4 linked regions of the Homo sapiens genome follow. The protein of the gene in region 1 interacts with the protein of each later gene in a pairwise test. Each region holds a gene or a part of one and is shown in the gene's direction. Other genes may lie near its edges. The genes, in order: SDCBP, HSF2BP, PTS and TNKS.

The links.
Region 2: the proteins of SDCBP (region 1) and HSF2BP interact in binary tests that used the Homo sapiens proteins (3 or more experiments, as listed by UniProt).
Region 3: the proteins of SDCBP (region 1) and PTS interact in binary tests that used the Homo sapiens proteins (3 or more experiments, as listed by UniProt).
Region 4: the proteins of SDCBP (region 1) and TNKS interact in binary tests that used the Homo sapiens proteins (3 or more experiments, as listed by UniProt).

Annotation. Positions count from the first base shown.
Region 1 is NC_000008.11:58,563,251-58,570,272, forward strand, and holds part of SDCBP (syntenin-1), read left to right. Parts: intron 1-1,768; coding exon of another isoform or gene 1,769-1,783; coding exon 1,784-1,834; intron 1,835-7,022. UniProt on the Homo sapiens protein: Multifunctional adapter protein involved in diverse array of functions including trafficking of transmembrane proteins, neuro and immunomodulation, exosome biogenesis, and tumorigenesis.
Region 2 is NC_000021.9:43,656,481-43,664,166, reverse strand, and holds the start of HSF2BP (heat shock factor 2-binding protein), read left to right. Parts: upstream 1-4,678; 5' UTR 4,679-4,781; exon of another isoform or gene 4,782-5,846; 5' UTR 5,847-6,070; coding exon 6,071-6,106; intron 6,107-7,429; coding exon 7,430-7,580; intron 7,581-7,686. Other genes in the region: RRP1B (ribosomal RNA processing protein 1 homolog B), read right to left, coding at 4,373-4,502. UniProt on the Homo sapiens protein: Meiotic recombination factor component of recombination bridges involved in meiotic double-strand break repair.
Region 3 is NC_000011.10:112,221,660-112,229,436, forward strand, and holds the start of PTS (6-pyruvoyl tetrahydrobiopterin synthase), read left to right. Parts: upstream 1-4,768; 5' UTR 4,769-4,784; coding exon 4,785-4,867; intron 4,868-6,934; coding exon 6,935-7,014; intron 7,015-7,777. UniProt on the Homo sapiens protein: Involved in the biosynthesis of tetrahydrobiopterin, an essential cofactor of aromatic amino acid hydroxylases. Catalyzes the transformation of 7,8-dihydroneopterin triphosphate into 6-pyruvoyl tetrahydropterin.
Region 4 is NC_000008.11:9,551,291-9,558,911, forward strand, and holds the start of TNKS (poly [ADP-ribose] polymerase tankyrase-1), read left to right. Parts: upstream 1-4,621; 5' UTR 4,622-4,649; coding exon 4,650-5,322; intron 5,323-7,621.

The DNA of each region.
Region 1 (7,022 bases):
TGAAAATGAATGAAATACTGATACATGCTCCAACACAGATGAACCTTGAACATATGCTATGTGAAAGAAGCCAGATGCAGAAGGCCACATATTCTAAGATTCTAGATTAAGTATCCAGAGCAGGTAAAAACAGAGGCGGGAAAGTGTATGTTGCCTGGAGCTGGAAGGAGGGTAGAATGGGGAGGCATGAGTTTTCTTTTGGGGAGGATGGAAATATTCAAAGATAGGTAGTGGAGATGATTGTAGAAGTCTGTGAATATACTAAAAACCATTGCATTATATACTTTGAAAGGCTGAATTTTAGAGTGTGTGAATTAAATTTAAAAAAAAAACTATCTCATACTGTCCAACTAGGAGACAGAGACCATATAGTGATTTTAACAGTGGAGGTTTAATACACAGAATTACTAGTTATAACATGATTGAAGAAATAGAAATTGACTTGTAAGAAGTAAAGACAACTTTTAAGAATACTGTAAGAGCAGACTTAATAAGTAGCCACTAACTCTAGGGCTGTTCCCATACTGGGGCTGAGATTCAGGTCTGGTTGAAGAGGGGACAGATGTCACTGGCAGATGCTGAAGTTGCCGGATACCATGCTTCTGGAACTTATTCTCCCTCTGGCATTCTGAACCTTGGAATTTGCTGCAGAAGCCACGTGAAGGGGTTGAGAAAGCTGCTCAGGGAGATTCCTTGGTGGTGGCATTCTGCTGCAGAGTTACTCAATAGAGTGCTGGGGTGAGCTTCTGCATGCTTGTGAAACTACTCCTGGCAGGAGTCTGGCTAGAGTAGTACGTTGGAACCATGAAGAGAAAAGCTCTTCCTCCTACAGTGTACCTCCAGTTGCCTCTACTGACAAGGCTTAACATCATGCCAGCTGGTAACAGAGCAATGTTGAAAGAGCTCAGCTCCATTTTGGGAGAGAAAGCAATAAGAAGTGGATTTGGAAATGGGAGGTAATAAATTGATACCTGAATCAAGAATCTTACGTTAAACCACATACCAGTTTAGCATATATTCTGTTTTATTGGGTTGAGTGAAAGTATCAGGTATTCATCTCAAAACAGCTAAATAAAATTTAAAATATGCATTCATATAATACATTTAGAGAATTGTGTTTTAAATTATTACAAAAAGCAATTTATAACTAAAAAACATACTTCTACTTAATACAGAAGTATTTTAAATGAAAAGTAAAAATTTCCCTCTTATTCCTCACTCCTTTACCATCTGTCTTCTGAAGAAAAATCTGTTAGCAGTTGATATAGTTTCTTCTGTATACATATATGTGTGTATATATTTTTCTTAGTAATAGAGGTTCATGTATTGATACTGCATATGATCTGCTTTTAGGCTTTTATTGTTAGAAGGAAATGTAGCTGTGTAATGCCCAAGGGCATTGTACTAAGGGTAGTTTCCTAGTCCTGGCTAAGTTGCAAGTACTTGTGTAAGTTAGGAGTAAGTCACATAACTATTCTATTTGATTTTCTAAATTTGTAAAATGAAGGGACTTTTACTTGAATTTTAAAAATCGGTGATGGATATAGTTCAATAATACTATTAGGGGAAGGAGAGGTAGTTTGGTAATTCTTAAGTATCAGCTAACTTTTAGTATGGCCTATATATTCTTATTTTTTAATATGTTTTGCAATTTAAATGTTTTTTATTGAGTTAAATAGTTCTACTTGTTTATGTGTCTGTGGTTAGCTGTGTATACTATTTCAATTTCTATGACATTAGAGTAATAAAACTTTCTTTTTTTCTTTAGAAGAATCCTGCAAAAATGTCTCTCTATCCATCTCTCGAAGACTTGAAGGTAGACAAAGTAATTCAGGTATGATAGTTTAAATACTTTTGTCAAAACAAACACAGTAACATGCATTCTACTTATAGGTGAAATAAAGCAAGATAGCTAAATAGCAGATATATTTGTTCATTTTTACACTTCATAAACCTTTTTTTAGTTTTATTAATTGCAGACTGAAAAGTTTACAGAAAAATTAGCAATTTTTTTTTTCATTTCACTGTGAATTAATAGGCATGAGATTTTTTTAATTCGACTTACACTTTTTACATTTCTGGTTAAAATTTAATTATATGTAACATATTTGAGTTGACAAAATATACTCCAATTTTGTAGATATTCATAGTTTTGTATAAAATTGGTATATTTTTCTTTTGGATCTTTAGGTATGACCACTCTTTAATTCTATGTCTCTTAACTGAAGTTAAAATTACAGAAATAGTGGCGTACATGCTGCTTTTAGAAGAGCAGTCATGTAAGAGCACAGGGAAAGTGTAGTGATTTCTTTCCTTTGAGAGATGAGCAGCAGACATTTCACTTGTTCATTCTCTAAATGACTGTGTAGAGATTGCAGTATTTCTAATTGCATTGAGTTGAAAATTTTTATACTCCTTTGTATAAGTATTAGCTTTGAAGACAAATGCTTCTGCTTAAGAACAAAGTGAGGAATTGGGACCAATTCTGGCTAATTGGGAAATTTTTGGTAATTATTTTAATTGGGGGTAATTTGTAGTATATGATGAATTTGTTTACGGTTAGCTTTCAACTTGATCTCTTATCAATTTAGAATTTCTTCAGCCGTTGTTTATTGTTTTAATTTGACAAGATAAACGAAAACTCCTTACCCTGAAGATCATTTTATTGGGTCCCTGTCTTCAATTTACTAGAAAGTGAGATATTCAATTTACTTACTGATAATTGAATTATGAACAATTATTTTCTATCATAGATCCAGTATGGATATTAAAATGAGGTTTGTAAAATCTCTAAAATCTACAGTTCAGCTGCCAAGGCTTTGATGCCTCAAAGTTTCAAGTGGCCTATTCAGTCATCTTTTACATGTTCCTATCACTTCTTTAGTATTTTGTCAGTATTTTCTTCATGTGGTTTTTATTTCCACATAGTTCATCTAAACAAGCACTTTTCTTTTTAAAAGGCCTTTATCTGAAATATTTAGCTTTCCAGAATAACTGCTTAGCCATTAATATGACATCAATACATTAACTGATAAGGATTTTTAGATGGACCTGTAAGAATGACTAATCTGTTCTTTGTTTTCATCCTTTTTTTGTTAGCTTTTTATGGAATTGAATGTAAATTCACCATAGTCAGATATGAGCTGAGGCTTTTGGTTTTGAAAACAGCAGCAGCAGAAGAGTTGATATTGACAAATATTGGAATGAAAAATAAAGAGGGCTACAATCTGTATCATGCTGCCCTCTTTAAGCAGAAGTGAATTACATAGATATTTACATTAAAGAACGTTTTATGTTCAGAGCAGAAAGCAGCTGGGAGATAGAACAGTGAATAAGGAGTGGGAAACATGGTTCTTTTATTACCCCTGAATTTAAAAATATTCCTAATTTAGCCATTAAACTCTTTGGCTGTTTTTGTTTTGTTTTGTTTTGTTTTTTTGCATCATTTTCTAAGGTGGATGATACTCATGTTTGTTTTTATTCTTAAGATTCTCCTGAAACGGTATTATGAAGGAAGGTAGTATTCATTTTCTCATCTGCTGGCCTTTAACACCACAGCAAAGCTAAATTACAGCAATGAACCAACCATTCATATTTTGTAAACTATTCTGCAGTAGCCACTAGGCTGTGGCTTTTAGCATCATACAGTCCCTAGACCTTTTTCTCTCCATTCCAAATCCTGACAAGAGCCTGTGGTTTCCTCTACTTATGCAAAGTAAGCTTTTAATAAATAATGATATACAGAACCAGAGCTTATCAGTTTCCTAATATGGTGGGCAGAATTTGGCAGCAGTGACGCTACAAGCATGTTTTTTCCACATCCTTTCTGTTAATGGCAGAAACAATAGGCCCTGGCATGCTCCTTGGGGCACCCCAACCCCTTTTTTTAGTAGTGTCACATTTCAAAGTAAGTTTGAAATAAGTAGCTACATTTAATGGTTTACAGTACTTAAAATTGGGTTACATCCTTTTGTTTCATTTTTACTGCAAATAACATAATTAAATTTAACTTTGCAGGGAGCTTTCTATATGTATTCTTCAGTATTCCTTGGATTAAAAACAATAGCAATGAAAGAACAGAAATTCATAACTACATACAAAGGAGAAGTATTTTAAATTAATAAGCTGTGTTTTAGAGCAATTTTAGATTCACAACAAAATTGATCAGAAAGTACAGTATACCTTCTGTCCTCACACATGCACAACCTCCCCCAGTATCAGCATCTGCACCAGAGCAGTACATCTGGCTCATTAATATCACCTGAAGTCTACATATTTACATTACATCACATTAGGGTTCACTGTTGGTGTTATATGTTCTGTGGATTTTGACAAATGTATAGTGACGTGTATATAGTCATGTGTTGCTTAAAGACGGATATGTTCTGAGAAATGCCTCATTAGACAGTTTTGTCGTGCAAACATTATAGAGTGTACTTCCACAAATGTAGATGGCATAGCCTACTACACATCTAGGCAGTATGGTATAGTCTGTTGTTCCTATGCTACAAACCTGTATGATCCCACCTGTATGATACAGTAATACTGCATGTTACTGTACTGAATACTGTAGGCAATTGTTACACAATAGTATTTGTGTATCTAAACACAGAAAAGGTATGGTAAAAATACAATGTAAAAGATTTAAAATGGTACATCTGTATAAGGCACTTACCATGAATGGAGCTTCCAGGACTAGAAGTTGCGCTGGGTAAGTCAGTGAGTGAGCGGTGAGTGAATGTGAGGCCTAGGACATTATTGTATACTGCTGTAGACTTTATCAATACTCTATACTTGGGCTGCACTAAATTTATTTAAAAATTTTTCTTTCTCGAATTATAAATTAACCTTAGCTTCCTGTAACTTTAATTTTTTAACTTTCTGACTCTTGTAATAACATAGTTTAAAACACAAACATTGTACAGCTGTATAAAATATTTTCTTTCTTTATATCCTGATTCTATAAGCTTTTTTCCTATTTTTTAAATTTTTAGTTTTTAAAAATCGCTTGTAAGTTTGTTAAAAACTGAGACACACACTCACATTAGCCTAGGCCTGCACAGGGTCAGGATCATCAATATCACTGTCTTCCACCTCCACATCATCCCACTGAAAGGTCTTCAGAGGCAGTAACATGCATGGAGTTGTCATTTCCAATGGTAATAGTGCCTTCTGGAATACCTCCTGAAGGACCTGCCTGAGACTGTTTTACAGTTAACTTTTTTTGTAAGTAGAAGGATATACTCTAAAGGGTATAACACAGGAAATACATAAATGAGTAACATAGTCATTTATTATTATCAAGTATTATGTACCATGCATAATTGTAGATGCTATACTTTTTTATATATGACTGGCAGTGCAGTAAGCTTATTTACACCACCATCACCACAAAGTAATGAGTTGTTCTGTGTGACGGCAGCTATGATGTCACTAGACAGTAGGAATTTTTTAGCTCTTTTATAATCTCATGGGACCACTATTGTATATGTGGTTCATCATTGACCAGAACAGGCAGCACATGACTGTATACCATTGTAGCATTAGACAGAATAGGTTCACTGCTCGAAAAATTCTTTAATGCCTGTTCTTCCTTCCCTTCTAGAAACTCCTGGCAACCAATAATTTGCTTTTGCTTTTGTGTTTTCTTTAGCGTCAGGATGTCGCTCTGTTGCCCAGGCTGGAGTACAGTGGCACAGTCATGGTTCACTGCAGCGTCCATCCTCCTGCCACAGCCTTCTAAGTAGCTGGGACTACAGGCATGCACCACCACACCTAGCTAGTTTAAAAAGAAAATTTTTTTTTCCCCCAAAACGGAGTCTGGCTCTGTCACCAGGCTGGAGTGCAGTGGTGCGATCTTGGCTCACTGCAACCTCCTCCTCCTGGGTTCAAGCAATTCTCCCTGCCTCAGCCTCCCGGGTAGCTGGAATTAACAGGCATCCACCACCATGCCCGGCTAATTTTTGTATGTTTACTAGAGACAGGGTTTTGCCATGTTGGCCATGACAAACATGACAACATGCCATGTTGGTCAGTTGAACTCCTGACTTCAGGTGATCTGCCCACCTCAGCCTACCAAAGTGCTGGGATTACAGGCATGAGCCACTGTGCCTGGCCAAAACAATTTTTTGCATAGGCAGGGTTTTCCTATGTTGCCCAGGCTGGTCTTGAACTCCAGGCCTCAAGCAACTCTCCAGCTTCAGCTTCCCAAAGTGCTGGGATTAAAGGCCTCAGCCACTGTGCCTGGCCTAATATTTTATTATCTCCACAATTTTGCATTTTTCAAAATGTCGTATAGTTGGAATCATAAAGTATGTAGCCTTTTGAGATTGGCTTCTTTCACTTAGTAATATCCACTTAAGTTTCCTCCATGTCTTTTCATGTCTTTATAGTTCTTTTTTTTTTCCCAGTGCCGCACAGTATTTTTTTTGTTAGACATGATTCAAGAAGTAATATAACAAGCCACTAGCTCCTTTTAGCTAATCGGTGGTGAAAGAACTTTCAAAGTTCAACACATGTTCAATTTGTGGATTGTTATTTATAATTATAAAGATTTTCATGCTGTATTTTGTTTAAATCTAGAATGTTTAACAAATTATGAAATAATAAATATTAAAGGATGACTCAACAAGTATATCAGAACATATAATTTTAGTACCATTCAAAGCTTTCATAGGCTTTACTTATTTAAACTAAGCTTTCATATCTCCAAGCATCTTTGGGAATACTCTTGACATTGATTTTAGGGCTAGGTTGAGATACTACTATGAACTTCATTTTTAAAATGATACATTTCCAATAAAGTAAAAAGTTGGTAGAGATTGGTCATACAACTTATTACCAAACTTGTCTCTAATGACATATAGCTATTTCAGAAAGTCAGATCTAATTGTAAAGGATAAAGTATTTCCATCAGTGAGATACTTCATATGATGTAGGCCATCAAGACAGCCCTGAGAAGAGGATACTTGAGCATGAGTAGCATTGATAAATGCTAGAGTGTCAGAGTGTGTCAGAGTGAT
Region 2 (7,686 bases), on another chromosome or scaffold:
GCGCCCGGCCCATTTTGTTCCCTTTTAAAACATCTATTTTCCATTTATGTCTGTGTGTGTGTGTTCACCTAGGAATCTAATAAAAACAAGCCACCAATTTTTGAAGTATTCAAAGTAAAAGAGAGAAATGCTCATTACTGAATTACTTTCAAAGCTCTGAAAGGCAAAGTACATTATCTGAAGCAGTTTGGTTTCATCAGTCTTGTCTTCTCTATTTTCTTCTTGGGGCTAAATTTCTTAAACTTAATACTACTGTTTTTACAACAATACAATATAGGTTTATTTATTTCAAAATGAATGAGGTAGGCCAGGTACAGTGGCTCACTTCTGTAATCCCAGCACTTTGGGAGACCGAGGTGGGCAGATCACCTGAGGTCAGGAGTTCAAGACCAGCCTGGCCATCATAGAGTGAAACCCTGTCTCTACTAAAAAAATACAAAAATTAGCTGGGCATGGTGGTGCATGCCTGTAGTCCCAGCTACTTGGGAAGCTGAGGCAGGATAATCGCTTGAACCTGGGAGGTGGAGGTTGCAGTGAGCCGAGATTGTGCCACTGCACTCCAGCCTGGGCGACAGAGCAAGTCTCTGTCTCTCAAAAAAACAAAAACAAAGGCTGGGCACGGTGTGGCTCACACCTGTAATCCCAGCACTTTGAGAGGCCTAGGCGGGCGGATCATGAGGTCAGGAGCTCAAGACCAGCCTGGCCAACATGGTGAAACACCGTCTCTACTAAAAACACAAAAATTAGCCAGGCGTGGTGGTGGGCGCTCGCTACTCGGGAGGGTGAGGCGGGAGAATTGCTTGAAACTGGAAGGTGGAGGTTGCAGTTAGCAGAGATCGCGCTGTTGCACTTCAGCCTGGGTGAAAGAGTGAAACTCTGTCTCAAAAAACAAAAACACACAAAACAAACGAGGTAAACATCAAAGTGAGACATGTAGACATGTGAAATATTAGTAAGTTTTGAAATGAGCAAATCCAACAGCCACTCTCACCACGCAATGAGCCCAGAAGCCATTTTAGATGGGGGTAAAGTGTTAAACTTGAACACACCCCAGTGTCAGAACATCCACAACTTCTATTTATTATAACTCTTGGATAGAGAGAACCCTAACCCCATCATTATAAAAAAACTTATATCCTCCATCATCTACACTGAATCTAATATAGCATCAACCATAAGATGTACTGTTATTTTGTATGCTGCCAAAAAGAAAGCAATGATACAAATGAAATTGTCACTGGGTTGATTTTGGGATGCCTCCCCATTTTAGTCAATATTTTTAAAGTTGCAGAACTGATAAGATAGGCAGGGATGGTCTGTTTTGTTCACTGCTATATTCCCAGTGCCAAGAATAGCGTACATAATAGTACACAGTTGGCACTCCATAAATGTTTGCTAAATATATGAATGAATGAATGAATTGGGACAAATAAGCTCTTATGGATGAAAGCCATGGAGAGTGATCATTTTATGACTGTGAGCACCCAACTTGAACAGTTAAAGCAAGAGCGCAACACTGTTACTTAAAGCAATACAAAGATTTCCAATTTATTTTTAAAATGACAAAGCTATCTATTGATGTTGCTGCAGAACAGCTCATGTTTCAGGAAGAGTGATAGCTCACATTTCCTTTATGATGCCTAAGACAAGATGCAGAAAAGTTGGAGCCTGTCATCGGGAGTCGAATGTCAGGCCAAGTTATTTCCAAACTTGTGCTGTAATTGTGATGGGGCATAGCTGTGGTGGAGACCTTGTGTTTTCTTGTCCCATTATCACTGTCCACGACGTTCATGCTGCGGAGTTATTTTCTGAAGGTCCACTGTACTCCATGCAATGTGGTGGTGAACAAGATATACAAGACAAGTCACTCTGGGTGTGATAGGCACTAACCAGACAGGACTCTGGAGCACTGGTGTAAACTGGTCTTAGGCCCCCGCATAACCTCTGCATTTGCAAATCCTGGGCTGGCTCACCAAAGGGTTTGAGCAAAAGGCTCTGTCTAGGCTGTCTTAGCACCGTAAGTATTGCCTCTGGTCTTCCACTCTTGTACAGGCCAAGACCTTTTACGGTTGCATGTACTCCCACTTCTGGCTAAGAAAACAGATGGAAGCTTACGGTGTTTCGGGAGAAGGATGACACATTGATAATTAAGAAGCAATGTAGCTAAGTGCTACAACAGAGACACAATGGATGTTTTAGAACCCTGGAGGAGTAGGGCAAGATGCTAGGCGAGGCTTTTTGAAGGAAGTGATACTGAACTGAATGCTGGCAGTGAAGAAGGTGTGGGATTCTTTGCAGAGTGAACAGGAGAAGCAAAGGCAGAGAGGTGAGAAATTGTGTGCTGTACACCAAGAACCATCACCGATTCTGTTGACGGAACATGAAGCAGTTACACGGGGCTTAGGCAGGAAGAGCACCTGAGGACAGATCATGACTTGCAGACACTGAATTTCAAAAAATATTGGTGATGTGGGATCAGATTTGTTTTAGGAAGATGACCCTGGGCTGGTCTGTGGAGGACAGATTCCTGGGGACACAAGTGAAGTTAAGGAGACCAGTTGGGGAATATGCGGGCGCAGAAGTTTCGGTGAGATACAAAGAGCCCACGGTCAAGAATTTATGTCATCAGGAGGTGAACGAGGGAGGACGGGGGTCCTCCCACTGGATGTGGGCCAGGGGAAGAGGATGAGGAATTCAGAGGAGTCCAGGACAATCCCGTGTGTCCGGCTGGAATCTGAATGGCTGGTGGGAACCAGCAACCAAAAGAAAAGAAAACAGGTGGCAGTGGAGCAGCAGCAGAGAACAGGATTTCGGGGAAAGAAAACAGAACTTTTTTTGGCATCCTGAGTGTGAGGTGCCAGGTAGAGAAGCCAGGCTAGCAAGGCACATCCGAGCTGCAAGTAGGAATGGGCTGGGACAACAATTTAGGTTTAGAAACCACCAGCATATATGGGGTACCTGGAACTGTGAGACTAAACAAAATCTCTTGGGGAGATTCTTAACAGAATCAAAGTCAGGAATTTTGGTCTTTATTCCTTTTTCTATCAGACTTCCCAGGAAAGTGTATTTTCTTTTTTTGGGTAGTCTGGTGATTTCTCTTAAAAATAAAACAAACTGAGAATGTCAGTGATGGGGGAGATAATATCTGTTCTTTTAAGCAGATTCTAAATGTATTAGTACCATCAGTAACTAAATAAAACTTTATCTTAAAACCTCTATTACACATTGTAGTTCATATTGTATGGGCTCACTCAAGAGTTTATAGAAAGTATTTTTGGATCAGGTAAATGAAATCATCCAACAGCAGTGCCGTTAAAATCTAAACTACAAAGCCCTGTGTGATCTGGCCACTGCCTACATCTCCAACTTCATCTCATAACACTCGCCCCCCCAACCCCAACTTATTGGTCTTTCAAACCACTCCTAGGGCACGTGAAGCTCTTTCCTGCCTCTGCATAGGCGGTTTCCGCTCATTTCTCTTCAGATCTGAGCTGATTATCAGCCCAGAGAGGCCTTCCCAGAACAGCCTATCAAGAAGAGCAACCTCCTTCCCTTTTTGCTATTATCTGGTTTTCTTTTTCCTTTTTTCTTTTCTTTTCTTTTTGAGACGGAGTTTCGCTCTTGTTGCCCAGGCCGGAGTGCAATGCTGCGATCTCGGCTCACCGCAACCTCCGCCTCCCAGGTTCAAGCGATTCTCCTGCCTCAGCCTCCCGAGTACTGAGATTACAGGCATGCGCCACCATGCCCGGCTAATTCTGTATTTTTAGTAGAGCCGGGGTTTCACCATGTTGGTCCGGCTGGTCTCGAACTCCCGACCTCAGGTGATCCGCCCGCCTCGGCTTCCCAGAGTGCTGGGATTACATGCGTGAGACACCGCGCCCGGCCTGCTACCTGGTTTTCATTTCCTTTACTACACTTACACAAGGTCTACTTTATTTGCCTGTTTGCCTCCTTGCTTTATTACTAATAGATCCTCGAGGGTAGTGATTTTGTCTGTCTTCTCTCCTGCAGCCCCGTCACGTAAAGGTGCTGGTCAAAGGAAGGCGGCAATCACCGACCGGACACCAGGGCAAATCAGGGCAGCCCAGTGATTCGAGATGCCGGCTGGGGAATCGGACCCATGTGGGTCTTTTCTCAGCTTCCCCGCTTACTGTGACTTTCATAAGTAACGGAACCCCCTCAACCCGTTTCCTTAAGTGTAAAAAGGCACTAGACACAGCAAGAAGCGGTTCCGGCAGCGCGGAAACCGAAGCACACGCTGGGTGTCACGACAACACGTGGAAGCCGCATTCCGTGCCGGGGCCCTGGCCCTAGCCCCAGCCCCGGCCCCCGGCCCGCCATGTGGCGCGGCTGACCGCGGCCGTGCGCCCACCTGTCTCCCTCTGCGTCTTCACGCTGATGTACTGGCGCAGCTTCTTCACCGCTCGGTCCCGGATGCCCTTCTCGCTGGACGCCAGCCGCTGGGCAAATTGGATCTCGGCCGGCTGCATGGCGGGGGCCATCGCGCCCGCTGGAGCATCCCCGGCCGCGCAACCCGCGGTGCCGCTGCAGCCAGCCGAGCGCTGCGGAGCAGCCAGCCACCGTCCGCCCGGGCCGCGACTGCACAGAAGGCGGCGGCGGCGGCGCGCGGGCTGATGGCGTCACAAAGGCGCCGCGGCTCGCAGCGCGCTCTGGGAGTGAGCGCGGCAGTGGCCCTGGCAGCTGGCGGAGCGGCCCAGCCCGTGTGCACGTGGCGCCGGCGCTGCCTTTCGGTTGCCAAAATTCAGGCTGTAGACGGCGAGGTTAGCCAGGGTTAGGACTTGACCAGGAAGAGACGGAAGGCTGTTTGTAAACGGTCTAGGATTTTTTGTTTGTTTTTGAGACAGGGTCTCCCTCTGTCGCCCAGGCTGGAATGCAGTGGCGCGATCTTGGCGGTGATCCTGGCTCACTGCAGCCTCGACCTCCCAGACTCGATCGATCCTCCCATCTCGACCGCCCAAGTAGCTGAGACTACAGGCGCGCGCCATCACGCCCCACTATTTGTTATTTTTTTGTAGAGACGGTGTCTCGCTATGTTGCCCAAGCTGGTCTCAAACTCCTGGGCTCAAGCAATCCTCCCGCGGCGGCCTCCCTGATCGCTGGGATTACAGGCTTGAGCCGCCGCGCCTGGCCACGGTCCAGGATCTTTAATCCCATTTAGCACACCTCGTTGAGCCAGCAGCTTACCTGCGATCTCCGTGGCGTGGAGTTTTTAACTGTGGAGCCCCCGGGCCCCCGGGTGGAGTTGAGACTGGAAGGAAAGGCCGGCACTGGGGCCTGTTGAGCGGGTGGAGGGCTCGCCTTCCTCCAGTGCCTGCAGAGGCTTGGGCAGATCGGTGCGCCCCTACCCCGGAGCCCTGGTGCCAGTGCAAGGGCGCCCGCGCAGGCGTCCCGAGGCCTGGCGAGCACGCGCGCTTCCAGGGGAGTTGGGCAGGGCGGGCTGCTTGCTAATTCCAGAGAGGGAAGAAATCTTAGCTTTGGGTTCATCTAAAACCCGAGGCCATCCTATATTTTGCGGACTCAGCGGGCGTGCTGGGGCAAGTTAATGGACTAGGTCACTCCACACGTAGCGGGGGTTATCTCAGTTGCTCCGCTCAGTTGTCTAGGCGACCTCCCGAGGTGCCTGTTGACACAAAAATTCAACCCTTAACGTAAAAGCGCCTGAATCCGAGCGAGGGAAGGCGCGCGGAGGCGAGGTTTCCAGCAAAGACTGCCCATTTGAACGCAGTCCCCCTTAGTGTAGCATTCCTCGCCAAACAGGAAAGGACCCATCCGATTTATTTTACTTGACACTTACATCAGGGGCTGACTTTCCTTCTGCTTTGCAGATAACAAGTTTAAAACCCCGGCTAAGCCAGAAGAGCCAAAGAGGGACCTCGCCAAGGCCACTCCTCGCTCTCTAGGCCGAGAATACTGCGCAAATTCTGGGAGGTTTGGGCCTGGCGGCTCTCCGTTCCCGACCCCCGGCGTGGATTCGTTCCCGCGCTTTCTGGCGTGAGGGGTCAGAGGGCGCGCCGACGCTCAGGCGAACGGAGCGGAGGCGGCAGCGGCCATGGGCGAAGCGGGCGCCGCTGAGGAGGCCTGCCGGGTTAGTGAGGAAGCCCTGGCCGACGCCAGCGTGTTTGAACCGTCGCCATTCGCTCCCCTCAGGGCCTCGCCCCGTGCGCTCGGAGACGGCTCGCTGTCGCGTGCTTGGGGGAAGCCTGGAGACTTCCTCCCCTAACGGCGTGGGCTGGGCCGGAGCGGGGTGGAGACCTGGGGCGGGAGGCGACTTCGCCTCCAAACCCACGCGGGGACCCGGTCTGTGAGGCTGCGCGTGGTGGGGGCACTCAGTGGCGCCAAAGCGGGCATGGGAGCGTGGGATGGATGGTCACTCTCTTCTCTGCTCCGTGGAAGCCCAGTTCCCCTCCGAAGGCCCTGGCCCCCTGCTTCGGGACTTAGCGTCAGGCTTAGAGAGAATCTGCCCTCCATCGATTTTATAACTGTAACTGATTGCATGCGATGGAGAAGGCGCTTGGACTGGGGCCAGATCCGTGTTCACATCCTGCTTCCACCCGTTATTAATTGTGCTGCATTGAGAGTCATCTAGCTCCCGTGCCTTAATTTCCATCTAGACAATCTTGGAGGCTTGGGGTGAATAGTAGATGAGATCACGGGCGGAGGGCTTGGCAAACCCAGTAGGAAACCAGATGACTTCCTTTTCCTCCTGATTAGTTTGGTGCTGCAGTGATAAAAAGTTGCAGGCGTTTTCTTTGACTTTTAGGAATAGAGCTCTTGTATGACTTTTCTTTTTCGTGGTCTTGCTCTGTTGCCCAGACTGGAGTGCAGTGGCACGATCATAGCTCACTGCAGCCTCCAACTCCTGAGCTCAAGCCTTCTTCCCGTGTCAGCCTGCTGCGTACAGGCGCCGGCCACCACACCTGGCTAATTTTTGTATTTTTAGTGAGATGGAGTTTCACCATACTGGTCAGGCTGGTCTTGAACTCCTGACCTCAGGTGATCCACCCGCCTCGGCCTCCCAAAGTGCTGGGATTACAGGCGTGAGCCACTGCGCCGGGCCTCCTGGGCACGTTTTCATATTTTTGTAGTGACAGGGTCTCTCCATGTTGCTCAGACTGGTCTTGAACTCCTGGCCTCCCAAATTCCTGGGATTTCAAGTGTGAGCCACCATGCCTGGCCTGTTTGTCCTTATTATTTTTAACATCTGGCTCCCTTTTTGAAGGCTGAAGCTTCAGCTTTCAAAATGTTTGTATGTACATAAAATATATCTATAGCAGAATATACAGTAGGTAGAGACATGATTTGAAACAACGATGCACATAAGAGGTGTGAAAGAAAAGCAAGTTAACTTGAGCTGTTGTTTTTTTTCTCATGTGAAGAGAAATATAATAAGATCTGCTTGTTCTTTTAGCACATGGGAACTAAAGAGGAATTTGTTAAAGTCAGAAAGAAGGATCTGGAACGGCTGACAACTGAAGTGATGCAAATACGGGACTTCTTACCCAGAATACTAAATGGGGAGGTGCTGGAGAGCTTCCAGAAATTAAAGATTGTAGAAAAAAGTGAGTCTTCATTTTCAGCAGTCATTGGTGGTAACAGTAATTTGTTCTAGCAGATTTACCCTAGGTAAATAATTGTAAACGAATTTTAAGGTACTCTTACAGTCCT
Region 3 (7,777 bases), on another chromosome or scaffold:
CATTCATTAGATGTTAAATAAACACTTTTTTTTTAACTTAATAAGTGAATGAGGACCAGAAGGTGATAGATATGGGGCCTACCTTGCCAATATATGTCCATTGGAGTACCTTATGGGATCTTTTTTTTGGTGGGGGGGCTTGGGGGTATTTATTAAGTGATGCTTTAGTCTCAGTCTCTGCCAGCAACTGGGGTGTGGGTTGACTCCACTCGCCCCAGGATTTCCCAGACTTGCTGTTTTAGTGGAGAGAGGCAGGAAGCCAACTATCCTCTAAGCCCCAGCTTGGGAAGCTAGGCTAGTACTGGGGTGGGGGCAGCAGAGCTGAGACCCTCCACCCCCACCCCCAGCCCCCAGCCTCCCAGCCTGAGGGGGAGGAGCTGAGGCAATTTTGGCCGCAGCCTCCCACACACAGCCCTGCCCTTGGTGCGCCATTCACTGCCCTGAGTTATTCATGATCTCTGCTCCCACATATTCACCTTGACACTCCAAAAGCCAGCCCCACACCCAGCCCCTTCAGGTCTTTAGTCCTGGGGAGAGCAAAAGGAGGGACAGGGGCCCTTTGACTGAGCAGCTTCAAGGGGCCTCTCCTTTCTGTTACCCACTGAATGCCAGCCCCTTGTCTTCAGCCCTCCCTTAGATAGGAAGGAGGGTGGTGGCCTCAGACTGCACCCCCTTTCTTCTTCTTCTCTTCCTGGCATCCCATTCTGTCCCAGCACAGCAGCCAAGAGCACAAAGCACAGCACCTGTGAGGCTGGTGGGCACAGGAGCCCGTGCTGGCACAGGCCAAACTGCCTGCAGCCCTAGGTGGGGCCTGCTCCTGCCCTAGAAGCTAGACAGAGGGAGACAGAAAGCAGAAGTGGGGCAATGGGATGTGCGGCCCCTGTGGCAGGAGGAGGAGCACACGAACCCTGACCCTGCTTCTTGGTGCAGGCCACTCCAGGCCTTGCTTCTGTAAGAGACTCTGTGGCTGGCTCCAGAGCTGCCCGGCCCCCATAAAGGGGGCTGAAAGGAGGATGGGTGGTCCTTGAGGAGGGGAAGGGTCTGCAGAGAATCGCTCAGACACCAGGTATTACCCAGCTATTCCCCCAAGACCTGGAGGGTCCAAACTCCTGGCCCCAACCACCTGCATCTTGGGTGAGGAAGAAGGGCCTCTTCTGCTGTTCCTTCCCCTCAGAGATCCAAGAACCCACTCCAGTGAAATGCAGGTACCCATGCCTGCCACCTGCCCCTGGAGACAGCAGGGGAGTTGAGGCAGGAAGGCTGGCCAGGGGCCCTTATGGGATCTTTTAGTAGAAGCTAGCCTTCTGAGACAACGCAGCCAAGCACAAGCCAGTAAATGTTGCAAGAGTGAAGGGAGAACTATACCTAAATGGCTGTTGATCTCAAGGCACTGAAAGCTAAGTTAAGAGGAATGTTATTTGCTTATTGGTTAGTGTGTTAGTCTGCTAGGGCTGCCATAACAAAGTACCACAGAGGTCTTAACAGAAATGAATTGTCTCACAATTCTGGAAGCTAGAAGTCTGAAATCAAAGTTGGTTTTTTCCTTCTGAGGGCTTTGAAGAAAGATCTGTTCCAGTTCTCTCTCCTGGGCTTGGAGATGGTGTTGTCTGTGTCTTCACATGATCTTCCCTCTGTATGTGTCAGTTTTTGAGTCCAAGTTTCCCCTTTCTACAAGAACATTAGTCATGTTGGATTAGGTCCCATCCTAAACACCTCATCTCAATACGTGTGCAACAATCCTATTTCCAAACAGGTTAAACTTCAACTCTGCAAATGCAGTGAAATATTTTACTAAAACAAACAAGTATTATTAATAAAAATAATTTTGCAGAAATTTCTCTTACTCTTTCACTTTATTTTGATTCTTTAAGCTGGTTTTGGAATGAGCAACTATTTGTGTAACCACTGACTGTTAGAGAGTATTTATCACTGAGGCAGTCCATACCTGGGAAATAATGTTTCTGTTCTGAGTGATCTCGCAATAGTAATTCACTTATCTGTGGCTGTATTTTCTTATCTGTAAAGTGAAAGTATTGAACTAAACAGTCTCTATCTCGAAAATCTCTAAATGTTATTTGAAGTTTTTTCTTTACAGTACAATGGGGTAGATGAGACAAACATCTGAAAATGTATGGAGAGTGTTTGCTAAATAACCTGTTAGTAGTTTAATGCAGAACAAACAGAATATATAGCTGTAAATAGGAGATATTTGAGGGAAATCACCATTTGAGCTTATTTCTATCGCCCCCATGATTTTATCTTTCTTTTTACAGGAAACTTTTCCAAGCCTGTTATTAATCAGTGACTTGTCCTGCTTTTCATCATATACAGTGATGATTTTTCTCATATAGAGTGGAGCTGTCCTCTCCAGTACCTGGAACAATGCCAGCCACATAGTAGATGCCCAATAAATATTTAGTGAAAGAGTGAATGGAAGCAAGAGGTGACATGATTCTGGGAACTGTGTGTAGTTTGGTTACTCTTGTGAGTAGATGTGAGGAAACAAGATCCTTTCACTCTCAATGTGTCTACACTGGCAGAAGAATTGCTAATATGTGTTTAGGGGTGTCTGTATTCACACTATGCCAACCCAGAGTAATAAATGGGTCCATACATGCTTGTGGATAAGAATGGCTTTAGAATTTCCCTTAGTAAGGATCATTACACAACAGTCCAAAGGACTGTTGTCACGTGGTCCTATTTGTGCTCTCAAATTCTTGCTCTTTAAAAATTTTTTTTTAAAGAAACGGTATTAATCCTAAGCAAAAAGAACAAAGCTGGAGGCATCACGCTACCTGACTTCGAACTATACTACAAGCCTACAGTAACAAAAACAGCATGGTATGGGTACCAAAACAGATATATACACCAATGGAACACAACAGAGGCCTCAGAAATAACACCACACATCTACAACCATCTGATCTTAGACAAACCTGATAAAAACAAGAAATGGGGAAAGGATTCCCTATTAAATAAATGGTGCTGGGAAAACTGGCTAGCCATATGTAGAAAGCTGAAACTGGATCCCTTCCTTACACCTTACACAAAAATTAACTCAAGATGGATTAAAGACTTAAATATCAGACCGAAAACCATAAAAACCCTAGAAGAAAGCCTAGGCAATGCCATTCAGGACATAGGCATGGGCAAGGACTTCATGACTACAACACCAAAAGCAATGGCAACAAAAGCCAAAATAGACAAAAGGGATCTAATTAAACTAAAGAGCTTCTGTACGGCAAAAGAATCTACCATCAGAGTGAACAGGCAACCTACAGAATGGGAGAAAATTTTTGCAATCTACCCATCTGACAAAGGGCTAATATCCAGAATCTACAAAGAACTTAAACAAATTTATAAGAAAAAAAATCAAACAACCCCATCAAAAAGTGGGCAAAGCATATGAACAGACACTTCTCAAAAGAAGACATTTCTGCAGCCAACAGACACATGAAAAAATGCTCATCATCACTGGCCATCAGAGAAATGCCAATCAAAACCACAATGAGATACCATTTCACACCAGTTAGAATGGCGATCATTAAAAAGTTGGGAAACAACAGATGTTGGAGAGGATGTGGAGAAATAGGAATGCTTTTACACTGTTGGTGGGAGTGTAAATGAGTTCAACCATTGTGGAAGACAGTGTGACGATTCCTCAAGGATCTAGAACTAGAAATATCATTTGACCCAGCCATCCCATTACTGGGTATATACCCAAAGGATTATAAATCATGCTACTTTAAAGACACATGCACCTGTATGTTTATTGTGGCACTATTCACAATTGCAAAGACTTGGAACCAACCCAAATGTCCATTAATGATAGACTGGATTAAGAAAATGTGGCACATGTACACCATGGAATATTATGCAGCCATAAAAACGATGAATTCATGTCCTTTGCAGGGACATGGATGAAGCTGGAAACCATCATTCTCAGCAAACTATCACAAGGACAGAAAACCAAACACTGCATGTTCTCACCCATAGGTGGGAATCAAACAATGAGAACACATGGACACAGGGTGGGGAACATCACACACCGGTGCCTGTCAGGGAGTAGGGGGCTGGGGGAGGGATAGCATTAGGAGAAATACCTAATGTAAATGACGAGTTGATGGGTGCAGCAAACCAACATAACACATGAATACCTATGTAACAAACCTGCACGTTGTGCACATGTACCCTAGAACTTAAAGTATAATAATAATTAAAAAGAAAAAAGAAAAAGAGAAACGAGGGTCTTGCTCTATTGCCCAGGTTGGACTCCTGGGCTGAAGTGATCCCTCTCCTTCTCAATAGCTGGGGCTACAGGAGTGCGTCACCACGCCCGCCTGGCTCAATTCCTGCTCCTTTTGGTCTATAAAGCGGACTGTGGCCCTGGGGTTCATCCGATTGAGTCACCAGTCACTGGAGCTTTACAGGAGAGAGTGGGAGAGGAGGCTCAGAGAGGTCACTCAGGACCCAAAGTGTGCCCAGACGGGCCCTAACTACGTGGCGTGACCTCAGGCGGGGCAAACAGATCAAGGACACAGGGTCCCCACCCACCCTGACCACTCCAGGGTATGCTTAGGTATCCCAAATCTTGCTCTCCGAAGAGATTCAGATAGCGAGAGACACCCTTAACTGTCTCCCGAGGCCGGGATTGGCCAGAGCGGAAGCGGAGACGCACTTCCTAGGGGCGCGTCTGGCACGCACTGCGCAGCCGCGGTGGGAGGAGGCACCGGCCGCGCGGCGGGAGGAGGTGCCGGCCGAGCACCGCAGACAGCGCCGGGAAGATGAGCACGGAAGGTGGTGGCCGTCGCTGCCAGGCACAAGTGTCCCGCCGCATCTCCTTCAGCGCGAGCCACCGATTGTACAGGTAGGGTGTGCACACAGGTACAGCGGCGGGCGGTGGGCGCCGGGCCCCGGAACGTCACCGGGGCGGGGCCGGCGGGCGTGCTGACGTCGGGCCCGGGAGGGGCGCGGGGGCTGCTGGGGCGACGCGCGCTGGTCGGCTTCGTGGGGCTTCGGACGGCCTCCAGCATCCTGATGGGGGCTGGAGTGTCCCCAGCCCTGGAGGGGTGGGGGAGCTTGATGGTTAACGGAGCCGACTGCGGAGGGCGATGGCCCACGTCTGGGTGCGGGGCCCACACCCGGTTCTGCGACTCGAAGAAACGTCTCTGCCCCTAGGAGTCCCTTGGTGTAGACCACAGGGTTGCTGTGAAACTCAGCAGTGTTAAACTCGCCTATGTTACACAGTACCTGGCGCGGCGTAGACACTCAGTAAATGTTAGCTAATCTTGTATGCCAGGAGCATTGGCCACCATATCTAATGTAATTACAAGGCAAATTTTAGCCCCTTTTTTACCAAAGACTGGATGAACCCAGTCCCTGGTGGTCTAGTGGCTAGGAGAAAAAAAAAAAAAAATGAGCCCAGACGTTCAGTTTCCGAAGCAGCATAGTTGGGATTTGAATCCCGATCATACATACTGCTTGCATGCACTGACGAGTTGATTTTGAGGAATTTTACCACGCACTAACCAGCTCCACCCTCTGGCCCTCCGTATCGTCGTCTGTGAAATGAGGATGACCATCGCTATCTAACAGGATTCATCCCTCCATTCGCTAAACCAGGTTTTGTTTCGTGCTTGTCAGGGCTTGTGCTAGGTAACGGATGCATCAGGGATCTTGTATGGGGTTTCCAATCTGGCCTATTTTGTGGAGGGTACACTGAGAAAATTTTGTGCAAAAGACTTTAGCACTCTAAATACAAGAAGTGGCTGAGCAGGAGAAAGTGGGGGTGTGTTATTCCATTTTGCATTGCCACAAAGGAATACTGAGACTGGTATTTTATAAAGAAAAGAGGTTTATTTGGTTCTGCAGGCTGTACAAGAAGCATGGCACCAGCATCTGCTTCTGTTGAGGCCTCAGGGACCTTCCACTCATGGTGGAAGGCGAAGGGCGAGCAAGCAGGCAACTCACAGGGCAAGTGAGGGAGCAAGAGAGAGGAGAGGAGGTGCCAGGCTTTTTTTAACAACCAGCTCGCCCATTGACTAATAGAGCGAGAACTCACTCATTGCTTCAGGGAGGGCACCAAGCCATTCATAAGGGATCCACTTCCATGAGCCAAACATCTCCCACTAGGCCCCATCTCCAACACTGGGGATCACATTTCAACATGACAATTGGAGGGGACAAACATCCAAACTACATTGGGGGGAATAATAAAGAGGATCTCAAAAAAAAGGGGTTGTATAATAAGCTTAAACACCTGAGGGTGGTAAGGTCTCATAGACGATGCGAAATTGAATGGATGGGTATAAGTATAAACATTAAGCAATTTGTTTTCTGTCTGAGACGACAGCCAAAGATTGTAATTTTAAAAATTCACCTGCTTGGAATATTCCTCAACAGATTGGTAAAGTTCTCATGAGGCAGTAGTTGAGACATAGTATAAAGCAAGATTGCTAAATAGGAGACTTACCAGGTCATGTAATTTTTTTAAATTATTTTTTCTGGATGAGTAGTTTAGCTTCTGAGAGAAATGAGATAGTAAGCCACTTTGCGGATCACCATCTATGTTTATCATTATATGCTGTTATTTCATTCAGCACTTGCCTGTTACATTGTAGGCACTCAGTAATGTTGAATTGAAAAGTGGAAGGCCCATGAGCAGATCAGTTGCTGTGGAACAAGGGGGTTGAAGTTAAGGTTTGTTTGTGCTAATTTGTATGGTACAATCTTCTAATTAGGGAATATGCCATGGTTTGTGACGTATACGTAAGTAATAAAATCAACATGATTTCTGACTCTCCCTTTGGTGAGCTAAAGTAATAAATTGGGAAACTTTTCAAAGATCAGTACAAATAATAAATATAAGGAACAGAGAAGGGGGTTTGAATGTGATACTTGTGTCATGCTGACTTTTTTTTTTTTTTTTGGTCAGTAAATTTCTAAGTGATGAAGAAAACTTGAAACTGTTTGGGAAATGCAACAATCCAAATGGCCATGGGCACAATTATAAAGGTGAGAGAAAAACTGATGACATTTCAGCCCTTCAATAAGGATGAAAGAGTATTCAGCAAATGTAGACATAAAGAATGGGAAAACTTACGGACACAGTGTGAATGCTTTGAGCCTTGAATGAGAAATTAAATGGGAGTTCAGAATGAAAGGATCTGTTGTCTTGGTTGGGTGTGTGTTAAGTTTTACCTTGCAATGTCAACTCTTACAAACAGTCCAAAACAATGAATGGTTTAAAGCATTTTTCTTTGTCCTAGAGTACACAACAAGTTTCTTTCTGATTAGGTATGGCCAAGGCTAATGTTAAAATTAGATTTTATTCTTTGAGTAAATAATGACTGACAAAAGGGGAATGTTGCCTAGGAATGTAATGTATGGCAGAAAAATAGGTTTGGTCTAAAGCTTTGCCAGCAGTGTTCGAAGAAAGTAGGTAATTTGTTCAAGGATAAGAGACTTGATTCTTTGAGGTACAGCCTGCCTTAAAAAACAGGTACATAAGTCGTAGAGTATAAAACAGTATGTGGTGTGGTGGCATAAAAAAAAACAGACAAGGTGTCAGGAGATTAGGATTACTGGTTTAGCTACAGCCTCTTCCTTAATCTATGGTATCTCAGTCTCAGTGTACTCACTTACATGTAATATCTAATGGTATTTGTACAGAACTAAAATACATAAATTCATAAAAGTTATTAATGTGTAAAGCACTGATAAAGTTTTTTTTTGTTGTTGTTGTTTTTTTTTTTGAGATGGAGTTCCACTCTTTTTG
Region 4 (7,621 bases), about 49 Mb from region 1:
CATTCATCATGGCTTGGTGGGTTGTCCCCATGTTCTGATTGGGGAGGGTGAGTCCTCTGGGTGCCTTGCAGTCTCTTGGTTTGCAGTTGCATCAGCTCTATTCTGGTTAGCTATATCCATCTGCATAAGCCATTACATCATTATATATGCGTTGTTGGCTAGTTATACCCTTCCATATCCATGCATTTCAGGACTTTCTGAGCCTTTTCTAAACATGGTTATGACTTTGGGGGAGGGCAGGTGTTTATCTCTTTTGAGTGATATAGTCATATGCAAATCCGTAATGGGGTATACATGTATGATTTTAATTACTTTTGGAAAAAAAGCTTACAAGGAAAGGAACATTTTTGGTGGGAAAACTTGTTTATCTTCTTTTTTTAAAGCACAGCAAATAGATTTTTATTTATTCCTGTTAAAATGTATGATGTAATATCCTTTAATCATACGAAGCTAGTTAGTGACAAAGCTAGGATTCATATCCAAGCAGTCTGTATGTGGAATCCACACCTTTAACCACCTCTCTGCCCGGAACTAACTCTCTGCCTGGAACTAACACTTCAAATTAAACCGACTACCCATGAGCGTACAGACCATAGCCAGAAAAAATCCAAGTTATCTCAGTGCAGGCTACAGATGTCTTTGGAGCAGCAGCCAGAAGACCCTGGTATGTAAGAGCTATCTTATAAAGCTACTAAAACTTTAATGGGAGAGTTGCTAAGAAACTGATACAGAGGATATCTTTAAATTACTGTAATTTTGCTGTCTTGTAATAAGTTGTTTTACCTGTTTTTTTTTTGGTAAAGCTTTTTCTGATACAATGTTGTTAGTACGATTGCAGCTGTTGGCATCATTGCCCATCTGTGGTTTTGTAAAAAAATATTCACCTGGGTTTCTGGATGGAACTTCAACTAAGAGAACGCAACACTTTTATAGAGAAATCTGGGCCCTTGGCACCATAGACATTTCTGACATAAAAATAACTTATTATGTTTCGGTAAGACCAAAAATGAGGAAATGACATGCCTCAGCCAAACCACAGCTCTGGCTTGTGCTCGTGGATTTGCGGAGGAGGCATTGCAGAGGGGATCGAAGAATAACTAGACTTAGTAGAAATACTACCAGAATACCAAATACGGTGGGAGATCAATGGGAAGTATATGGATGGAATGACACACCAATTCCAGTTGAAATATGGAACTTGTGCAAGTTCATGATTGTGTAATTTTCAGAGTGTCCATGCGAACCCCATAGGGTAAGAAAGCAAACATCAGAACACAGCCCAAAAGATCGGTGTCCTTTGAGTTGGTGGCTTTTCTTTTGTGTCAACAGTATAGCCTAAGAGAGTGCTATGTGCTCCCATTTTTGTAGTACTTGGGTATACTTTGTGTGTGTGTGTGTGTGTGTGTGTGTGTGTAGACAGGGTCTCACTTTGTTGCCCAGGCTGATCTTTGATCTTGATTTTTTGGGATCAAGCATTCTCCTGCCTCAGCTTCCCAAAATGCTGGGATTATAAGTGTGAGCCACTGTACTCGGCCAGGATATTGTTTTTGTGAAAACGCTTATGAAAATAAGATACTACACACCTGTGATCAACAATAGTTTAGAGACAGAGTTTATAAAGAATCCTGAATTATCAGATAAGGAAAGAATTAAACCTAATGTTTCTTTGCTTTAGATTCCCATTCTGTGTAAAACGATGGATATTTATTCCCAGCCCCTATCTTTGTCACAAAGGAAGTTGCGAGGGGAAAGCTATCAATAGTGGCTGTGAGTTCATGTTAACACTTTATGCATGCCATGTAAGAGAACGGATCTAACATTCAAAGAGTGCTTAAAAAACACCTAGGCTTTTAATCCTCATGACAGTGCTAAACTAAGGTCAACATTTTAGGCTGAGAGAGCTGAAGCATACCTATCAAGATTAGCCAACTAGTAATCATCAGAGATGTGACTTTCAAGCCCAGGTTTGTTTGACCCCAAGCTTTGCTCTTTCCACTATGATATAGTGCATTCCTCCTGGAATTGTGTTTAGCCACAGAAGATTAGGTAATAGCATGTGTCCTTTCATGTTTGGAGCTCAACATTAGTCGGTATAAACCCAAACTTCATAAATACTTAATGTTAAGTACTTTTCCTACTTTCTGCTCGAGGGGAAGAAAGCAATTTCCAGTTGATTGAATGCATTTCCAGACATGGTTTTCCAGTCCAGTTTCAGGCAATTTAGTTTTTTGTTTTTTGTTTGTTTGTTTGTTTTGCTGAGACAATGTTGCTCTGCCACCCAGGCTGGAGTGCAGTGGCACGATTTCGGCTCACTGCAACCTCTGCCTCCTGGGTTCAAGCCATCCTCCTGCCTCAGCCTCCGCAGTAGCTGGGATTACAGGCGCGCACCACCACGCCCAACTAATTTTTGTATTTTTAGTAGAGATGGGGTTTCCTCATGTTGGCCAGGCTGGTCTGGAACTCCTGACCTCGTGATCTGCCCACCTTGGCCTCCCAAAGTGCTGGGATTACAGGTGTGAGCTACTGGGCCTGGCCGGCAATTTAGTTTTTAAAAATCTCTGTCCAGCAGAGACTTCCTTATTTTATTGTTATTATTATTTTTTGTACTGATAGACACAACAGATGCATTTTGAATAAGTCTGAACATCACTACTTTCTATGAGTAACTGACCACTGGGAGACCAGATGAGATATTTCTTATGCCTCCCATTCCAGGAGGCCATTATTTAGGGGACACATGGTGTGTTATGGATATCTAACATATCATGTTGGATCACTCCCACTTCTCAATGGTTCTCTGCTGTACATCAAGAAGTTAAGATTAAAAAACAGAAGCATGAAGAAGAATGTTGTGGACTGATTTTAGTTGCACTGATGTGAGTTTTCCTATCCAGCTACACTTTTTGTCCGGTGTCTACTGCGAACAATGGCACATTTCATCACACAGCTGGATAATGTTAAGAATTATAATCTGTAACCCCAGATTAGATGAAAATAAATGCCACTCGTAATACTAATTATGTTCCTGACCTTATTGTATTTACTTACTAACCCCAAATAAACTCATCTATTTACTTAAATGGGAATATTAACATCACATAAATCATATTTAACAATGAACACATGAAACAATTTATCACCTAGTTTAATATTCTGCTTGACTCATCTAAATCTTGTTTCTCTTACAGAATTTCCATCTGTGTCCACTCTATTGGAATAATGCTGTTTCTGTATACTTCTACAATGCCTGCTTTACTATTGAACAGTAGGTATGAAATGGAGTCCTCAATGGGATTATCTCATTCATGGATACATCTTTTGATAGTAGAAAAACAAAAGTATACATAGGTTGGGGGAAAGACAGAAAAAGCAGTTGCTGAAAAATAGCACCTGATGGTGAGTAATGGACAGCAATCAGGTTTTTGTTATGTTTTCTTGTTGTTTTTGTGACAGGGTCTCCGCCCTCTGTCACCCAGGCTGGAGTGCAGTGGTGTGACCTCGGCTCACAGCAACCTCTGCCTCCCGGGCTCAAGTGATCCTCCCAACAGACTCCTGAGTAGCTGGGACTACACGCATGTGCCACTTTGCCCAGCTAATCTGTGTATTTTTTGTAGAGATGGAGCTTCGCCGTGATGGCCAGGCTGATCTTGAACTCCCGGGCTCAAGTGGCCCGCCGGCCTCGGCCTCCCAAAGTGCTAGGATTACAGGCATGAGCCACCGTGACCAGCCTAGCAATCAGGTTTTTATCTGTTTCGGGTGTGGGAGAGGCTAAGCTAAGCCAGAATTCAAAAGAAAGGAATATATTCATAATTAGTTACACTTAGGGTGAAAAATAAAATTTCAGAGAGAGCAGAATAGGAAAAAAAAATCATAATTTTAATAATTCACACTTATTGCACTATTGTTATTTCAATTTTACAGAGAAAAACAGGCATAGAGTGATGAAATAGCAAGTACATATATAAACAACAAATGGCAGAGCTGGAACGCCAATCCTAGCAATCTGAACCAGCATTTAAAAACGAGGAATTAAAGCACATAGGGTGAGAAAAATTATAGGGAAGGGACAAGAGCTCAAGGGGACACCTGGAAAAGAAATACTATAATTTAAAAAATTACCAACGGGCTAATTATACTTGTGTTTTACTGGCAGAGCGCTTTGTCTGTTAGCTCTTTTAATCCCGCTAATAATTCTGTGAGGTTGGTACTATAAGTTCCATTTTTCAGACAAGGACGCTTAATAGATGATAACGGACACATTCCCTGCTTGCTCTGATCTGCATCTCAACAGCTGGCTCTGGAGCAAGCAAAGGGAGACTAAGGGAAACAGAGCGGAGCAGGGCAAAGAAAGCCGACTGAAAGTGAGAAATGCAGGAAATGTTTCCCATCTAGGCAGAAGCTGGTTCCAGCATTCAAATCTCTCCAGCCGGCCCGCCACCACGTCACAAAGCCCGCCTCTCAGTGACAAAGCCCCGCCCCGTTCCCTTGGCTGTTCTCTGAGCTCCCAATACTTCCCTCCTTCTCTTTGGCCCCTGCTACCCCGCCTAGCATCATTTCCTGTGCGCTGGATGCTGATTGGTCCGACAGTCGGAAGTGAGGGCGGGCGGTGGGGGCCGTTGCCGCAGTGACAGTGCTAGGGGAGTCCGAAGATGGCGGCGTCGCGTCGCTCTCAGCATCATCACCACCATCATCAACAACAGCTCCAGCCCGCCCCAGGGGCTTCAGCGCCGCCGCCGCCACCTCCTCCCCCACTCAGCCCTGGCCTGGCCCCGGGGACCACCCCAGCCTCTCCCACGGCCAGCGGCCTGGCCCCCTTCGCCTCCCCGCGGCACGGCCTAGCGCTGCCGGAGGGGGATGGCAGTCGGGATCCGCCCGACAGGCCCCGATCCCCGGACCCGGTTGACGGTACCAGCTGTTGCAGTACCACCAGCACAATCTGTACCGTCGCCGCCGCTCCCGTGGTCCCAGCGGTTTCTACTTCATCTGCCGCTGGGGTCGCTCCCAACCCAGCCGGCAGTGGCAGTAACAATTCACCGTCGTCCTCTTCTTCCCCGACTTCTTCCTCATCTTCCTCTCCATCCTCCCCTGGATCGAGCTTGGCGGAGAGCCCCGAGGCGGCCGGAGTTAGCAGCACAGCACCACTGGGGCCTGGGGCAGCAGGACCTGGGACAGGGGTCCCAGCAGTGAGCGGGGCCCTACGGGAACTGCTGGAGGCCTGTCGCAATGGGGACGTGTCCCGGGTAAAGAGGCTGGTGGACGCGGCAAACGTAAATGCAAAGGACATGGCCGGCCGGAAGTCTTCTCCCCTGCACTTCGCTGCAGGTCAGAGACTTTTGAATTGTTTATTAAGGGTTATGGGTTTGGGTGCAGGGTCCGGTTAGGACAAGAAAACAGGTTATTGTGATGGGACAAAGTGGGGGCGTGGTTATGGTTCTTCATCACCTCACCAGAAGACTGGAGGTTCCTTTCTTTTGGTGGTGCCTGGGTGATGGGGGCGTGGTTGGGGGGGATAAGTGAATCCAAGGAATTCTTCAGTGGTTGCACAGTACTCATTACAAAACTCACTGTAGTTGGTAGTCTCTGCATATGGATATATTTACACTTTAGTTTTTGGTGTGCAGGAATACAGTTAGATTTGGACAGCTTTAGAGTAGTTTTGTCGTTTGTGTGCTAGTTTATTTTGTTTTTACAAGGGTATGTCCTTTGAGGACAGTCCAGACCAAAAGAGGTTTAATACAACCCAACACATGTTTGAGGATCTATTGTAGCCTTAATAACCCAATGAAAGACATAAATGAAGTGTTTGAAAGTTTCCCTTCTTCTAAAGAAGTTTGCAGTCTAGACGGGGAGACCAAAATATGCCAATGTGAAACAACTGGAGAAGAATATTTGGATGCATTATATGATGATGGAAGAAATATAGGCTTTGATGTTGTGGCCACTATTATTTGTTGTCTAGCAGACCATTTACCTCGTGTCAGTTGCCTCAGTTTTCTCATGGGCAAAAATCATAAAATGATGTTGTGCGAGCATTTGGTGAGAAGTATCTGGCACAAAGTTCTCCCTCAAAAAGTGTGAATTTCTTAAGCTCTGGACCCCACACTTGTCTTTTTTTTTTTTTTTGCAAGTAGTTGATGATTTTCTCTCAAAGACACCTAATAATATGTTTATAAAATAAAGAGAACTGTAAAATAAAAACAAAGGACCATAATCTCACTGCCTGGATACCTATTGTTGATATTTTAAAAATGTAGGTAATAATGTTTTATACATTAGAAACATTATATTGGAAATACATATATTGTACGTTATACAATTCAAATAGGACAGAAAAATACAAAATGAAAGGCATCACACAGAAACATCAGAGATAACACACCAGAGATAACTTCTGTTAAGTTTCTCCTATATTTCTAATATATATATATATCACTTCTTCAGTTTGTTCTGTTAACAGTAAAACATGTGTTGACCCACTGTAGTATTTATTTTTACCACACTTGGGAGATATGATTAACCATTTTACAGATGACAAAAGTGAAGCATATATCGATCGCTTAAATAAGTCCAAATTCAGTCAGGAAATAGTGGAAATTGAGTTTGAATTCAGGCAGTTTGATTTTAGAGCTTGTGAAATCAAACTTAAACTGTCAGAACCCTGGATTAAGGTCACTTTTCATTTTTGTGAGTAATTGAAGTGTAGAGTTCCCAATTTTTGGGAGAAGTAGTAATGCGGAGGGGCTTATATGCAAGAGAGTAGCTTTCACATGTTTTTTATTGTAGCCCATACTTAGAAATACATTTTACATTGTCACATACGCAACTGAATCAAAAGTTTCTGGAAACAATACTTTCCCTTAATACATGTGTTGTCCTCTGATATTTTATATTTTATTCTGTTTCATTTTTAGCAAATGCTGCTTGTGATCCATTAATGGGTCGTGACCAGTGGTATGAGAAACACTTAAAGGAAATCATTGTTAGGTCACTGGATTCATTATTGATATACAGACACTACTTATTAGGAATGCAGTGAATTGAATCAGAAACAGACTTTTGCCTATTTGTTTGCTCAAGGGTCTTGCTTGTTTTAGATGAAATAGCATTTCTTTTTCCTTAGGCTAAATGAAAGGCCTAAGTCTGATTTTATTAATCAACAGAGGTGTCTACTTTTGCATACTTTATTCCAAGTTTGCCTATTTTAACAAATTGCGTCACAAATCATGTCATTTCTCACCATCCCACTTTATGCGTAATCACCAATAAATGATAGTTATATTTATGTGTATTAATGTATTTAGGATAAGTCACACAAAATAGTGCTTGTTTCTCAAATCACGTGTCTTCTATTTGCCACAATAGTTACTTGTTATTCTGTTTCAGAGTTTTATGTATATCCAGATAAGCTAGAAGATAAACAATCAAACAGTACCGTAATTATGTTGTAGTTATGACAAGCTAACCTTGAATTGGCTTTTTAAGAAAGTTTTTAGCTCAGTTGTGGAAAACACAGTAATAAAATTCTCGATATGAAAACATAATGTCCTGTAGTCAGTTTGCCACGCTTCCGTGATTGAATTCGTAACATTAAAGTTTTATTAAACTTTAGTCTTCTTTATCA